Regions from separate parts of the Homo sapiens genome. Here region 1 is linked to region 2. A link means that fine-mapping ties the variant in region 2 to the expression of a gene that starts in the linked region. Tissue or cell type: whole blood. Region 2 holds a variant in brackets; the other region holds the start of a gene. All regions are shown on one strand. Distances are between the middles of the regions.

What was found. PIP is the estimated chance that this variant, and not a neighbour inherited with it, causes the effect.
Region 1: CNIH4 starts here. The variant in region 2 is fine-mapped to the expression of CNIH4 in whole blood (TOPMed, PIP 0.98).

Annotation. Positions count from the first base shown.
Region 1 is chr1:224,352,659-224,360,760 of GRCh38, reverse strand. It overlaps CNIH4 (cornichon family member 4), which reads right to left and starts at 3,882. Exons shown (of 5, transcript NM_014184.4): 1 at 3,768-3,882; 2 at 198-266. The coding sequence starts at 3,836. RefSeq lists enhancers at 3,032-3,532, 4,090-4,229 and a silencer at 3,440-3,809.
Region 2 is chr1:224,465,236-224,473,343 of GRCh38, reverse strand. It overlaps a transcript of CNIH3 not described here. Among named protein-coding and RNA genes, the nearest start is that of WDR26, 34 kb to the right of the region's middle. The variant T/A (reference allele first, on the strand shown) is at 4,830.

The DNA of each region.
Region 1 (8,102 bases), 110 kb after region 2:
ACAAAATTTCAAGTCAGATCTTCTAGCATAATTTCATGATCTAAAATATTGTAAAACACAGCAGTTCCATCAAATTTCCAATGAATAAGAGACAACATGTACTCTAAAATCAAAAATACATCTGTTATCTATAATAATCTTAAGTATGGAAAATGACCTGGCTTCAATGCCAGAGAATGAGCAAAGAAATGTCTTACCTTGTTTAATTTTGAGCAACATGATCTAGCATTAATGTAATCACATTCTAAATCAGACAATGTAATTATCTGATGATCAAGATAAGGAATTATTATATTTCTTTTATAATAACTAAGTATTTAAGTTTCAGAAAGCAATCCCAGTTACAAGGCAGAATTAGATTTGACTTGAAAAAAATGAGTTGTTTCCTAAAGTTTGCTCATTAGACAACTCAATTTTCCCATTCATGTTCCTTCAACAAATTATTTTACAAAATAATCCTATTTTGCTCAAATCTAATCTGACCCAACCAGAACATTTAGTTTGAGTTCTTCAAATGTAAAACAATGGCTATTAAAAAAAAAAAAATGGGAAATATCCCAGCACTTTGGGAAGCTGAGGCAGGAGGATCGCCTGAAGCAGGAGTTCAAGATCAGCATAGGCAACATAGCAAGCCTCCATCTCTTTCACCCAGGCTGTAGTGCAGTGGCGCAATTCCAACGCACTGCTACCCCTGCCTCCTGGGTTCAAGCAATTCTTGTGCCTCAGCCTTCCAAGTAGCTGGAACTATAGGTGCGCGCCACCACCACACCCAGCTAATTTTTTGTATTTTTAGTAGAGACGGGGTTTCACTATGTTAGCCAGGCTGGTCTCGAACTCCTGGCTTCAAGTGATTCACTCACCTCACCCCCATCTCTACAAATTTTTTCTTTTTTTTTCATTAGCCGGGCATGAGCACCTGTAATGCTAGCTATTAGTAGCAGTACTGCTAAGGTGAGGCAGCAAAATGCCTAGAGCCCAGGATTCACGTTACACTGAGCTATAATCACACCAGTGCGCTCCAGTCTGAGCAGCAGATTTGGTAGGCACTTGTAGTCTCAGTTACTTGAGAGGCTGAGGCAGGAGAATCGCTTGAACCCAGGAGATGGAGGCAGCAGTAAGCCAAGATTGCGCCACTGCACTCCAGCCTGGGTGACAGTGAGACTCTGTCTCAAAAATAAACATGAAAATAAAATAAAGTCAAACTCATCACTTTCTCCACAGATTGATCTTCCTCCAATTTGTTTTATTTCTGTTACTGACACAAGTATCACTTGCCCAGGATCAAAATATGGAAAGCTATCTCTGCCTTCTGTTTCATATATCATAATCACTCATTTGTAGGTCCTGGCAATCATTTCTTCTAAATACTACTCACATATTCCCTCCTTTCACCTGCCCACAACCAGCACTCTATTTGAAATCCAGACGACCCTATCCAGTTGGTTTATCTTCCAATCTTTCTTGTTTCCAACCCACTCGGCAGATTCATCTTCCTAATAAACTACCGAAAATAAAAATTTTCAATGGCTCTCTATTGCCTGCAGGATAAAAGTGAAAGACTTCCCTCCCACCCTTAACATTCAAGCCCTCCAAAATCTGATGTAATCCTGCCTTTCCAACTTAGCCTTCTACTGACGCCAAAATCAACCATGTGCTCCAGATGGTCTATTCGTTAACCATAGCCCAGAAATCCACGAACATACCTGTCTCTGCACCTTCGCTCTTGCCAGTGTCTGATTTGGAATATTCACCTCTTCCCCTTCCTGTAGATTTTGTCCACAGTTCAAAGTCCAAGAAAACTCTTATATCCTATATTAAGTCTACCGTGACCATTTTCCACCTCCTATCCCTAAGTTAGTGCAACTATTCTAAAATACAGAATATGCTGAATTTCATCAAAACACCCCCCGAATGTATTTTAATGTAATGTCTAAGTCAAACATTCCACCTACCATTTCTCTAAATGCATAAATTGGTGTAAACCAGGGCTATTTAAAATTATCAAGCCTGGTTTTCCAAACTGCAAAAAGAAAAAACCCAGCTACATTTCTGAGCATAAGCTCTAGTTCAGGGGTGTCCAATCTTTTGGCTTCCCTGGGCCACACTGGAAGAAGAATTGCCTTGGGCCACACATAAAATACACTAATACTAATGATAGCTGATGAACTTAAAAAAAAATCACCAAAAAAGAATCATAATGTTTTAAGAAAGTTTACAAATTTGTGTTGGGCCACATTCAAAGCTGTCCTGGACCACATGCAGCCCGTGGGCCGTGGGTTGGACAAGCTTGCTCTAGTTCCTTATATCACAAGAGGGGCATAGAGGTCATCAAAACTTAGGCAAGTGATGCTGCCCTTTCAATCAGCTCCCCAAACCTACTAAAACTCAGAAATCTTGTCGTTAGATATCATCAAAGTAAAAACTGCTGCTCAATTGGGGAGGGTGGGGACACGAAGGCAGAGCAATATTTACTGAACATTAGCTATGGGGCAGGCACTGTGCTAGGGTGCTCAGCACCATTCTCATTGTGCATATCTAGGAAATAAACATTTCCTATTTTAAAGATCAGAAAACTGAGGCTTAGGGAAATAATGTGCAAGCAAAGAGCTAGCTGACCAGGAAATCTGATTCCAAATTTTGTCCCTTTCCACTACAACAGGATGCCAGTCCACAATGAAAAATGAAGCTGCACTGAACATATACTCTGTACGACTATCCTAAAGCCCGCATGCTCTAGCAAACAAATGGTTTAATCCGATCAGAAACAGGTACATGTGATTTCCAAGAAAGGAAGCTGAAATGCGGAGTTCCTCATACGTTTTTTCTTATATTTAATTACTTAAACCTGGATGGTGCAATACAACATTGGGCAACAACTAAGCCTAGATGCTTTGTCAAGAGATGGGAAGAGTTGTAGCCGACATGGCTACTGCAGTGCTAAATTCAACCACCATTTATTGCTCTGGAAAACAGTTTGAATACTGCAACTTAAGTTTTAACATGGATCGATAGAAAAATTTAAAAGCTGAGAAACGATTGGGAACTACAGCAGATGTAGTTATTGAATTTACAGATCTGCAACCACCGGGGACAACCAAAATAATCACTTTGTAGACAGTTGTTAAAACAACTCCTTTCCAACACTCACTACAAAACGGCACAGTGAAGGAAGCAACTTCGCTCCTTTGGCGAATGAGTCAACTCCTGGATGTGAAAGGTCCCTGCAAGTACTAACACCCGCCAGAACAAAGGGGCGGGTGCCGGGGGTGTTGCGTGGGGAACAGGAGGAGGCAAATGGCCCGCACTTATCCCGGCACCCGACTGTCGCAAGCGACCGCCCTTGGGACCCCCAATATCCGACGAAGAGCACGGCGCAGGGCCTCTCCCAGAAAAACAGCGACGCTTCTCTCCCGAGGGCGGCCGTGGCTCAGGCAGGGCTGGTCCGGGCGCCGCGGGGACGAGCGGAGAGCAGGCGGGCAGGCCGAGACGGGGCGCGCCCGGAGAGGCCCACTCGGACCCGAGTGAGGGGCGGCCGGCAACCCAGGCAGGGCAAGTGCGTGCAGGGCAGCAGGGCCCGTCGGGTAGGGCAGCCAGCCTCTCCTACCCGCTCCGGGGCCCGCGCCACCGCCCCGGCCAGGCCAGCTCCCAGGGAGCCCACGCCCGCCGCCGGGCGCCTCCCTAGTCCCACACACCTGCCCGGGTGCCCAACTGGCCCACCCTCAGCCGTGTCCCCCGGCAAGGCGTTCGCCTGCCTCAGGCAAGGATACGAAGTAGACCGAGAGGAAGATGAGCGCGCAACAATCGAGGAGAGAGAAGACGAACACCACCGCCTCCATCCTCCTCCTCCGTCGCCGCCGCTCCTTCCGTCAAACCCGCTCGGATGCCCCGACCCACCCCTGATAGGCCCTTGCCGGGGCTGGCTGAGGCGTGTGGTCCTCGAATCCTGGTGTGGCATGCCGGGAGTTGTAGTCCATATTTTAAAAAACTCTACGGCCCTAATTCTGACGCATGCTGGGAATTGTAGTTCATTAGTACAAGTCCATATCAAAGAGGTGGGCAGGGCCTCTTTCATAAATCCGATTATTTCCAGAAATGGAATTAATCAACAAGTATTTACTCAACGCTTTTCTTTTAAAGAGCTGGGGTCTTGCTCTGTCGTCCAGGCTGGAGTGCAGTGGCGTGATAGAGCTCACTATGACCTCGAATTCCTGGGCTCAAGCAATCCTTCCACCTCAGCCTCCCGACATGCCCAGCTAATTTTATTTTATTATTTCTCATTTTATTTTATTTTTTGAGACAGGGTCTCACTCTGTCGCCCAGGCTGGAGTGCAGTGGCATGGTCACAGCTCACTGCAGCCTCTACCTCCTGGCCTCAGGTGATCCTCCCACCTCCGCCTCCTGAGTACCTGGGATTACAGGAATGTACCACCACGCCTGGCTAATTTTTTGTATTTTTAATAGAGATGGGGTTTTTGCCATGTTGCCCAGGCTGGTCTCGAATTCCTCGGCTCAAGCGATCTGCCTGCCTCAGTCTCCCACAGTGCTGGAATTACAGGCCTGAGCCACTGCACCAGTCTCTACTGAACGCTTTTAATCCGGATATCCAGTAGGATGTATTTCCCATGTGTGAAATTTTCTTTAGAGTTGGCTCTAGAACCATTGCATTCCCTGACTTAGGATTTGTAAGGGGTTTTCATCTCAAAGCACAAATCTAACTTAATGCTCCTGGCTTGACTTTTGCGATTTGCCCTTCCCTTCCTGATTTCAATTTCTCCAGAGATTTCACAGTCCTTTGTTTATCCTCTCCTACAGCAATGTTTCTCTCCTCTCTAGATTTTAAGATCTTTAAGAAGTGAATACGATGTCTTACTCATCCATTCATTCATTTAACAAATACAGTTGTATTTGCAGGGGCTACTTTCCAAGACCCCCAAGTGGATGCCTGACACGATGGATAGTACCAAACCTTATGTGTACTATGTTTTTTCCTATATATACATACCTATGATAAAGCTTAATTTATAGATCAGGCACAGTAGGAGATTAACAAGTAATAATAAGATAGAACAATTATACTGTAATAAAAGTTATGTAAATGTGGTCTTTCTGTCTCAAAATATCTTATTGTACTGACCCTTCTTTTTGAGATGATGTATGATGATAAAATGCCTATGTGATAAGATGAAGAGACAGATGCAGCCTCTCCAGTGATTTTTATATTTTTCAGTCCAAATCTATTCTTACATTCATGTAACTATCCATTACTTGCAGTAAGTGGCTTGGTATCACTCGTTTTAGGGAATCCCTCACTGAAGTCTTTGTATAGGCTCAATACTTTCTGGCTCAACACGTTGCCATCAATTGGCACATGTTTTCTGTTCATGTCTTCCACCCACAAATGTAATGCCTCTTCCATCTTTTTTGTGGTTGTTGTTTTAGTTTTTCTGAGATGAAGTTCACTCTGTCACCCAGGCTGGAGTGCAGTGGCGCCATTTCAGCTCTCTGCAACCTCCACCTCCCAAGTTCAAGCGATTCTCCTGCCTCAGCCTCCGGAGTAGCTGAGATTACAGGTGCATGCCACCACACCCAGATAATTTTTTGTATTTTTAGTAGAGTTGGGGTTTCGCCATGTTGGCCAGGCTGGTCTCAAACTCCTGGCCTCAAGTGATCCACCTACCTTGACCTCCCAAAGTGCTGGGATTACAGGCATGAGCCACTGTGCTGTGCCGCCTTTTCCATCTTAACTAAGCACTTATCAGGCACTGTGGCCATAACTTTTGTAGTCTGAGTTGCAACAGCAAAACTAGCACAAATTCCTTTTTCCTTTTTCAGAAATTCACAGATAAAAGACTGGTTCTTACCATAGATCTTAGCAGTCTCATAGGGTTTTTTTTTCTTTCCTTAAGTCAAGAACTTTGACCATTTCACTTAAAGGGAGCACTTCATGGCTTCTCTTTGGCATATCTGAATTGCCAGTATTCACTGCTCTTGAACTTTGGGCCATTGTTAAGTACAATAATGGGTACTTGAACATAAGCACTGCAATACTGCTGCAGTCAATCTGATAACTGATAAGATGGCTACTACGTGACTAACAGGTAGGTGGCATAGACAGCATGGATATGCTGGACAAGGGGATAGATAATTCATGTCCCAGGCAGGATGAAGTGAGCAGCAGGAGATTTCATTACACTCCTAAGAGTGGCACACAATTTAAAATTCATGGATTGTATATTTCTGAAATTTTCCATTTAACATTTTAGGACTGTGATTGACCTCAGGTAAATGAAACCAGTGAAAGCAAAACTGTGGATGAGACTGCTGTATTTACTGACAACACACCTGCTATAGGCCAAGAACTGCTCTAGACTCCAGAGATATAAAAATAAACAAGGCAAACAAGTTGCTGCTCTAGTAGGGTGAGTGGGAGGAACAGGCAATAAAGTATAACAAAGTATGGGAAAAAGATAACTTCAAGCAGTGATAAGCTCTGTGAGCGGTTGTGTCAAAGTTATTTATTCATTCAACCAATATTTTCTGAGCAGCCAGAATATATGAGCTACTGTTCCAAACCTTGGGAAAAGTCCCCACAAGCCTGTGGTTTACATTACAGTGAGAAAGACAGACGACAAAATAAATATACTAATGACAGGCAGTCATAAGTACTTGGAAGGGGATGGGGAAAGACGGAGTGATCAGAGAAAGCCAAGCTGAGGAAATGACACTTAAGTAGAAATTTGAACAATAGCTATGTGAAGGTCTGCGGGCAGAATGTTTCAGAAAGTAGGAACAATAATTTCAGAGGCCCAGTTGTATATAGAGGCTTGATGTGTTAAAGGAATAGAAAAAAAGACTACTGTGGTCTTGTGGCTAAAGCACAGGGGAAAAGGGTGAGAGAGTGCTGAGAGGAAGAGAAGGAGGCAGGGTAAGGTTATATGGGCCCTGTAGACCCTTGGCAAGGATTTTTATCCTAATATGATGAGAAACCACTGCAGAGTTCTAAGCAAAAAAGTAGCTTAATCTGATTTACATTTTTAAAATCTCATTCTGGCTATTTAGCGCACTGAATGTGTGAAAGGGAAACAAGTTTGTCAGCAGGGAGATCACATGGAGAGTAGAACAGGAGAATTACTATGAAGGCAAAACCAACTGAGCCGGGCGCGGTGATTCACGCCTGTAATCCTAGCACTTTGGGAGGCCGAGGCGGGCGGATCACCTGAGGTCGGGAGTTCGAGACCAGCCTGACCAACACGGAGAAACCCCGTCTCTACTAAAAATACAAAATTAGCCAGGGGTGGTGGTGCATGCCTGTAATCCCAGCTACTTGGGAGGCTGAGGCAGGAGAATCACTTGAACCCAGGAGGTGGAGGTTGCAGTGAGCTGAGATTGCTCCATTGCACTCCAGCCTGGGCAACAAAATGAAACTATGTCTCAAAAAAATAAGCAAACAACAACAACAAAAAACACAAAAACCCAACTGGATTTGCCTGATGCAGTACAGGTTCATAGATTCATAAAGGGTTCACAGGTTAAAGCTAGACATACAATTAACAGATTATCTAATTAATTAAACCAGCTATTACCAAACTCCCATTGTACCTTGTACATATCTCTATCAGAATATTCATTACATACTCAGTTATCTTAAGGTGAAAAAAAATACTCATCAACTATCTTCCTTATGTGCTTAGCCAGTCACACTGAGGGGTGACAGCGTGCTGGCAATCGTCACAGCCCTCACTCGCTCTCGCTCGCTCTCGGCGCCTCCTCTGCCTGGGCTCCCACTTTGGCGCCACTTGAGGAGTCCTTCAGCCCGCCGCTGCACTGTGGGAGCCCCCTTCTGGGCTGGCCAAGGCCGGAGCCGGCTCCCTCAGCTTGCGGGGAGGTGTGGAGGCAGAGGCGCGGGCGGGAACCGGGGCTGCGTGCTGTGCTTGTGGGCCAGCGCGAGTTCTGGGTGGGCGTAGGCTCGTCGGGCCCTGCACTGGGAGCTGCCAGCCGGCCCCGCGGGCCCCGCCGGCCCTGGGCAGTGAGAGGCTTAGCACCTGGGCCAGCAGCTGCTGTGCTCAATTTCTCACCGGGCCTTAGTTGCCTTCCCGCCGGGC
Region 2 (8,108 bases):
TTACTTATTTTATTGATAAGTAAGGACTTATTCCTGTCATTTTGTTGTTTCCTGGTTGTTTTATGGTCTTCTCTTATTTCCTTCCTTCCTGTCTTCCTTTTAGTGAAGGTGATGATTTTCTTGTGGTATGTTTTAATTTTTTGCTTTTTAATTTTTGTGTATCCATTGTACGTTTTTAAATTTGAGGTTACCATGAGGCTTGCAAATAATATCTTCCAAACCCATTATTTTATTTATTTTTTTAAATACAAACTAAGGCTTTTTCTTCAATTATCTCTATCATCCACAGTAAAAGGAAATAAGTCACCTGCAACTGATGCCAAACCCTCCTGCCAATGAGAGATAAGCAGCTCTGGGTAATTTCACATAGCCCAGCAAAGACAGTTTCCTTGAATTCTTATGAAAAATTGGCCCTAAAATCTATCAGGATGACTTATTCATGAGAATCATCTGAGATACCCATTATAAATATAGTTGTCCAGAATCTTAGGTGGTTGTGGGAGAGGAAAGCTCCTGTAATTCTGAATTTTGTGGTTTTTGATTTTTAATTTTTTTATTTCAATAGGATTTTTGGGGAACAGGTGGTGTCTGGTTACATGAATAAGTTCTTTAGTGGTGATTTCTGAGATTGTGGTGCACTCATCACCCTAGCAGTGTACACTGTGCCCAGCGTGTAGTCTTTTATCCCTCACCATCCTCAATCCTTTTCCCCAGGTCCCCAAAGTCCAATGTATCATTCTTATGCCTTTGCGTCCTGATAGCTTAGCTCCCACATATTAGTAAGAATATATAATGTTTGGTTTTCCATTCCTGAGTTACTTCACTTAGAATAATAATTTCCAATTCCATCCAGGTTGCTGCGAATGTCATTATTTCTCTCCTTTTTATGGCTGAGTAGTATTCCATGATGTATACATATATACCATGTTTTCTTTATCCACTTATAGATTAATGGACATTTGGGCAGGTTCCATATTTTTGAAATTGTGAATTGTGCTGCTATAAACATGCATGTGCAAGTATCTTTTTTATATAATGACTTCTATTATCATATAGAAAATGTGATATCACTTCATTTTAAATGGTTTTTATGCAAAAGACAGGCAATAACAAATGCTGGTGAGGATGTAGAGAAAAGGGAATCCTTATACACTGCTGGTGGGAATGTAAATTAGTACAACCACTATGAAGAACAATTTGGAGGTTCCTCAAAAAAACAAAAATAGAGCTATCATATGATCCAGACATCCCATTGCTAGGGAAATACCCACCCTCCCAAAAAAAGGAAATCAGTATATCGAAGAGATATCTGCACTTCCATGTTTACTGCAGCACTATTGACAATAGCCAAGATTTGGAAGCAACCTAAGTGTCTATGAACAAATGAATGGATAAAGAAAATGTGGTACATATACACAATGGAGTACTATTCAGCTATAAAAAAAAGAATGAGAGGCCGGGCACGGTGGCTCACACCTGTAATCCCAGCACTTTGGGAGGCCGAGGCCGGTGGATCATGAGGTCAGGAGTTCAAGACCAGCCTGGCCAAGATGGTGAAAGCCCGTCTCTACTAAAAATACAAAAAAATTAGCCAGGCATGGTGGCAGGTACCCGTAGTCCCAGCTACTTAGGAGGCTGCAGCAGAGAACTGCTTGAACCCAGGAGGCGTAGGTTGCGGTGAGCCGAGATCACGCCACTGCACTCCAGCCTGGGTGACAGAGCGAGACTCCATCTCAAAAAAAAAAAAAAAGAGAGAATGAGATTCTGTCATTTGCAACAACATGAACAGAACTGGAGGTAGTTATGTTAAGGAAATAAGCTAGGCACTGAAAGACAAACTTTGCGTATTCTTACTTATTTGTAGGAGCTAAAGATTAAAACAACTGAACTCATGGAGATAGAGCGTACAATGATGGTTACCAGAAGCTGGGAAGGGTAGTGGGGGAGTGGGGAGGAAGAGGGGATGGTTAATGGGTACAAAAAAATAGAATGAATGAATAAGAGCTAGTATTTCTGCCAGGCACTGTGGTTCACGCCTGGAATCCCAGCACCTTGGGAGGCCAAGGCGGGCAGATCACATGAGGTCAGGAGTTCTGGTCTCGAACTCCTGACCCTGTCTCTACTAAAAATATAAAACATGAGCTGGATGTGGTGGCGTATGCCTATAGTCCCAGCTACCCGGGAGGCTGAGGCAGGAGAATCACTTGAACCCAGCTTGCAGTGAGCTGAGATTGTGCCACTGCACTCCAGCCTGGGCAACAGAACAAGACCTCATCTAAAACAAACAAACAAACAAACAAAAAACCTAGTATTTGCTAGCACAACGAGGTGACTATAGTAAAAAATAATTTAATTGTACACTTTTAAATAATTAAAAGAGTACAACTAGATTGTTTGTAACACAAACGATAAATTCTTGAGGTTATGGATATCTCATTTATCCTGATGTGATTATTACATATTGTATGTCTGTATCAAAATAGCTCGTGTACACCATAAATATACATACCTACTATGTACCCCCAAAAAAGAAACAATGCAAGCAAGAAGACAATGGAACAACATCTTTAAAGAACTGAAAGAGATGGCCAGGCATGGTGGCTTGTGCCTGTAAACCCAGCGCTTTGGGAGACCGAAGTGGGAGGATCACTTGAGCCCAAGAGTTCAAAACATAGGCAGATCCCATTTTTACAAATAAACAAAAAACAATAACAACTGAAAGAGGGCTGGGTGTGGTGGCTCACACCTGTAATCCCAACACTTTGAAAGGCCGAGGCAGAAGGGTCACTTGAGGCCAGGAGCTGAAGACCAGCCTGGGCCAGACAAGGAGACCCTTGTCTCTACAAAAAAAGTTTTACAAAATTAGCTGGGCCTGGTGGCACACACCTGTAGCCCTAGGTACTTGAGAGGATGAGGCAGGAGAACCACTTGAGTCCAAGAAGGCTGCAGTGAGCTACGATCGTGCCACTGCACTCCATCCTGGGTGACAGAGTGAGACACTACCTCTTAAAAAAAAAAAAAAAAAAGGCCAGGCACAGTGGCTCATGCCTGTAATCCCAACACTTCGGGAGGCCGAGGCAGGTAGCTCACAAGGTCAGGAGATCGAGACTATCCTGGCTAACACAGTGAAACCCCGTCTCTACTAAAAATACAAAAAATTAGCCGGGCATGGTGGCGGGTGCCTGTAATCCCAGCTACTCAGGAGGCTGAGGCAGGAAAATGGCATGAACCCGGGAAGCAGAGCTTGCAGTGAGCCGAGATCGCGCCACTGAACTCCAGCCTGGGCAACAAAGCGAGACTCTGTCTCCAAAAAAAAAAAAGAAGAAGAAGAATAACTGAAAGAAAGAACTGCCAAGTTTAAATTATACACCCAGTTTTTTAAAAACCATATTTCAAAAATGAAAATAAAGATGTTTTCAGATTTTTTTTAAATCTGGCAGAATTCATCACTACCAGACTTTAAAAAATATTAAAGGAAGGCCTGAAAGTAGAAGGAAAATGATACCACATGGAAATATTGATCTAACCAAAGGAATGAAGAGTGTCAGAAATGGTTACCACACAGGTAAAATATGTAAGATGTTTTTCCTATTATTTATGTCTCTTTAAGAGATAATTGAGTCCTCAACAAAATATTAATAAATTAAATTCAGCAATATCAAAAAAGAATTAGCCAGGAATGATGGCACATGCCTGTGGTCCCAGCTACTTGGGAGGCTGAGGCGGAGGGATTGCTTGAGCCTGAAGTTTGAGATTACAATTAGCTATGATTTGCACCACTGCGCTCCAGTCTGGGTGACAGAGCAAGACTCTGTCGCTATAAAACAAATAAATAATAAAAAATTCTTTAAAATTATACATCATAACCAAGTTGGACTTATTACAGGTATGCAAGGCCAGTTCAATATTTGAAAATCAGTCAATATAACCCATCATATCAACAGGCTAAAGAAGAAAAATCAGGCTGGGCAGAGTGGCTCACACCTGTAATCCCAGCAGTTTGGGAGGCCAAGGTGGAAGGATCATTTGAGTCCAGGAGTTCAAGACCAGCCTGGGAAATATAGCAAAATCCTGTCTCTACAAAAAAAATTAAAAATTAGCTGGGCATGGTGGCATGCACCTGAAGCTCCAGCTTCTCAAGAGGCTGAGGTGGGAGGATCACTTGACGCCAGAAAGTAAAGGCTGCAGTGAGCCATGATTGCACCACTAAACTCCAGCCTGAGTGACAGAACAAGACCCTGTCTAAAAAATAAAATAAAATAAAAAAGAAGAAAAGTCATATGACCATATTGATATAGAAAAAGCATTTTACAAAATCCAGTTCCCATTCACGTGCACAAAAAAAAAAAAGTTTCACAAACTAGGATTAGAGAGGAACTGACTCAACTTGATAGAGAGCATCTACCAAAAAACTACAGGTAACAGCATAATTAGTGGTGAAAGACTGAAAGACTGAATGCTTTCCCCCTAATATCAGGAACATGGCATCACCATTCTTTCTTTTTTTTTTTTTTTTTTTGAGACAGGGTCTCACTCTGTCACGCAGGCTGGAGTGCAGTGGCAGTGGCATGATCATAGTTCACTGCAGCCTTTAACTCCTGGCCTCAAGTGATGCTCCCACCTTCTCCTACCACAGACGTACTCTCATCATTCTTATTCAACACAGTACTGAAAGTTCTAGCCTATGCAATAAAGAAAGAAAAACAATAAATGCAGACAGATTGGAAAGAAAGAAATAAAATTGTCCCTATTTGTAGATGACAATTATCTACACAGAAAATCCTAATAAATCTATTTTTAACTGCAATTTTAAAAATTAATAAGGAAGG[T/A]CACTGGACACAGAATCAACACACAAAAATCAACAAACATGTAGAAACCAAAGCTGAAAACACAATACCATTTACAATTGCTACAAAGCAAATGAAATACTTAGTTATAAATCTAACAAAACATGTATAAGAGCTGTATGCTGAAAATTACAAAATGTTGATGAAAGAAATCACAGAAGACCTAAATAAATAGAAATACTGTGTTTATGACTTAGAAAACTCAACACTAAAAACATCAATTTTTCCCAAATTGATTTACATAATTCCTATCCAAATTCCAGCAAGGCTTCTTATAGATATAAATAACTTATTCTAAAATTTATATGGAAAGGTAAAGGACCTAAAATAGTTACGACAATTTTGAAAAAGAAGAATGTTGTAAGAAGAATCATTCTACCCAATGTTAAGGCTTACTAAATAACTTCAGTAATCAAGACAGTAGAGTACTGGTGGAAGAATAAATATGTAGATCAATGAAATATAATAGAGGAAACAATAGAATCACAAAAGAATGTACAACTGATTTTTTTAAAGAAAAAAGGTACAAACATGATTTAATAGAGGAAGGACGGCCCTTTCAACAATTGGTGAAGAAAAAAAAAAAGTCTGTAGGCCAAGAAAAAAAAAGAAGAGCCTCATACCTTTTACAAAAATTAACTTAAAATGAATCATTGATTTAAACATACCATGTAAAACTATGAAACTTTTGGAAAAAAAAAAAACAGGAGGAAATCTTCAAAACCTACGGCTGGGAGAACAGTACTTCAACTTGATATCAAAACTATGATCCCAGCCAGGCGCAGTGGCTCATGCCTGTAATCCCAGCAATATGGGAGGTCGAAGTGAGTGGATCACCTGAGGTCAGGAGTTCGAGACCAGCCTGGCCAATATGGTGAAACCCCGTCTCTACTAAAAATACAAAAATTAGCCGGGCTTGGTGGCACCTGCCTGTAATCCCAGCAACTCAGGAGGCTGAGGCAGGAGAATTGCTTGAACCCAGGAGGCAGAGGTTGCAGTGAGCTGAGATCGCACTATTGCACTCCAGCCTAGGCAATGAGAGCAAAACAAAAACAAACAAACAAACAAACAAAAACTATGATCCAGGAAAACTTGATAAATTGGACCTCTTAAGAATTAGAAAATTTTGCTCTGTGAAAGCTCCTGTTAAGAGAATGAAAAGAGCCAGGCATAGTGGCTCACGCCTGTATTCACAGCACTTTGGGAGGCAGAGGTGGGCAGATGGCTTGAGTCTAGCAGTTCAAGATCAGCCTCAGCAACATTTCCAGCAGTTCAAGAAATGTCTCTACAAAAAACAGAAAAAATTAGCTGGGTATGGTGGCACACACCTGTAGTCCCAGCCACGTGAGAGGCTGGGGTGGGATGATCACTTGAGCCCAGGAGGTCAAGGCTGCAATGAGCCATGATCACACCACTGCACTCCAGCATGGGTAACAGAGTGAAACCCTGTCTCAAGAGAATGAAAAGATAAATTACAGACTGGGAGAAAATATTTGCAAGCCAAATATCCAACAAAGGATTTAGTATCTAGAATATAAAGAATTTCCAAAACTCAACAGTAGAAAAGCAAACAATATAATTAGCAAGTGTACTAAAAACATTTCACTGAGGAGTAGATACAGGTAACAAGCTAATAAAAAGATGTTCAACCTCAGTGATTAGGGCAATCTAAATTAAAACCACAATGCATTATCACTACATGCCTAACAGAGTGATAAAATAAAAAATGTCAAATTCTGGCAAGGATATGGGAAAAACTGGATCACTCTTACATGGCTGGCAGGAATGTAGAATGGGATAGCTACTCTGGAAAATATTTTGGCATTTTCTTTTAAAACTAAAAGTGCACTTACCATACAACCCAGCAATTGCACCCTTGGGCATTTATCCCAGGCAAATGAAAACCTATATGCGCTCTGCAATCTATACATGAATGTTGATAACAACTCTATTTATAATAGCCAAGAACTAGATACCACCCAAATGTCCTTCAATGTATAAATGGTTGAAGAAACTGTAGTACATCCATACCACAGATACTACTCTGCAACATAAAGGAAAAAACTACGATAGAATTAGGCCTTGGCTGGTTCTCAAGGGAATTATGCTGATTGATTTTTTTAAAAAGCTACAGACTGTATGACACTACATAAGTGATTCCATTTACGTAATGTATTTGAATAACAATATTAAAAGATGGAGAACAGAAGAATGGCTGCTGGGGTTATGGACTGGGGAGAAAGAAGGTAGATGTGACTATAAAAGCATCAGGGAGGCTTATGGTGATGAAATGGGTCTGTATCTTGATTGTGGTGGCAATTACACAAAGCTACATGTATGATAAAACTGCATAGAACTACATACACACACAAATGAGTGCATGTGTAACTGGTAAAATCTGACTAAACCCTGTGGATTGTACTAATGCCAATTTCTGGGTTTTTGTTTTTCGTTTTTTGTGTTTTTTTGAGAAGGAGTTTCATTCTCATCACCCAGGCTGGAGTGCAATGGCGAGATCTCAGCTCACTGCAACCTCCGCCTCCCAGGCTCAAGCGATTCTCCTGCCTCAGCCTCCCGAGTAGCTGAGATTACAGGTGCCCGACACCATGCCCGGCTCATTTTTGTATTTTTAGTGGAGATGGGGTTTCACTATGTTGGCCAGGCTGGTCTCAAACTCCTGACATCAGGTGATCTGCCTGCCTCAGCCTCCCAAAGTGCTGTGGTTACAGGCGTGAGCCACAGCACCCGCCCAATTTCCTGGTTTTGATACGGTATGTAGTTATGCAAAATGTCAACATTGAGGGAGGAGGGGTGAAGGATGCACAGGACCTTTCTATACATTTATTTGCAATATCCCGTTTATAATTATTTCAAAATAAAACATCTAAAAAAGAAAACTGGCTGTTCAAGCAAAAATAATAGTATAGACTGTGGTTTATAACAAATGTGTAAGTAAAACGTATGACAACAACAGCATAAAAGCTATGAGGAGGGAAACAAAGGTAGACTCCTGTAAACTTATGTTATGTGTGAAGTGATACAATATAACTTGAAGGTAGACTGTGATGAGTTAAAGATAATTCTAACCAGCCAGGCATGGTGGGTCACACCGGTAATCCTAGCACTTTGGGAGGCCAAGGTGGGCAGATGACCTGAGGTCGGGAGTTCGAGACCAGCCTGACCAACACGGAGAAACCCCGTCTCTACTAAAAATACAAAATCAGTCAGGTGTGGTGGTGCATGCCTGTAATCCCAGCTACC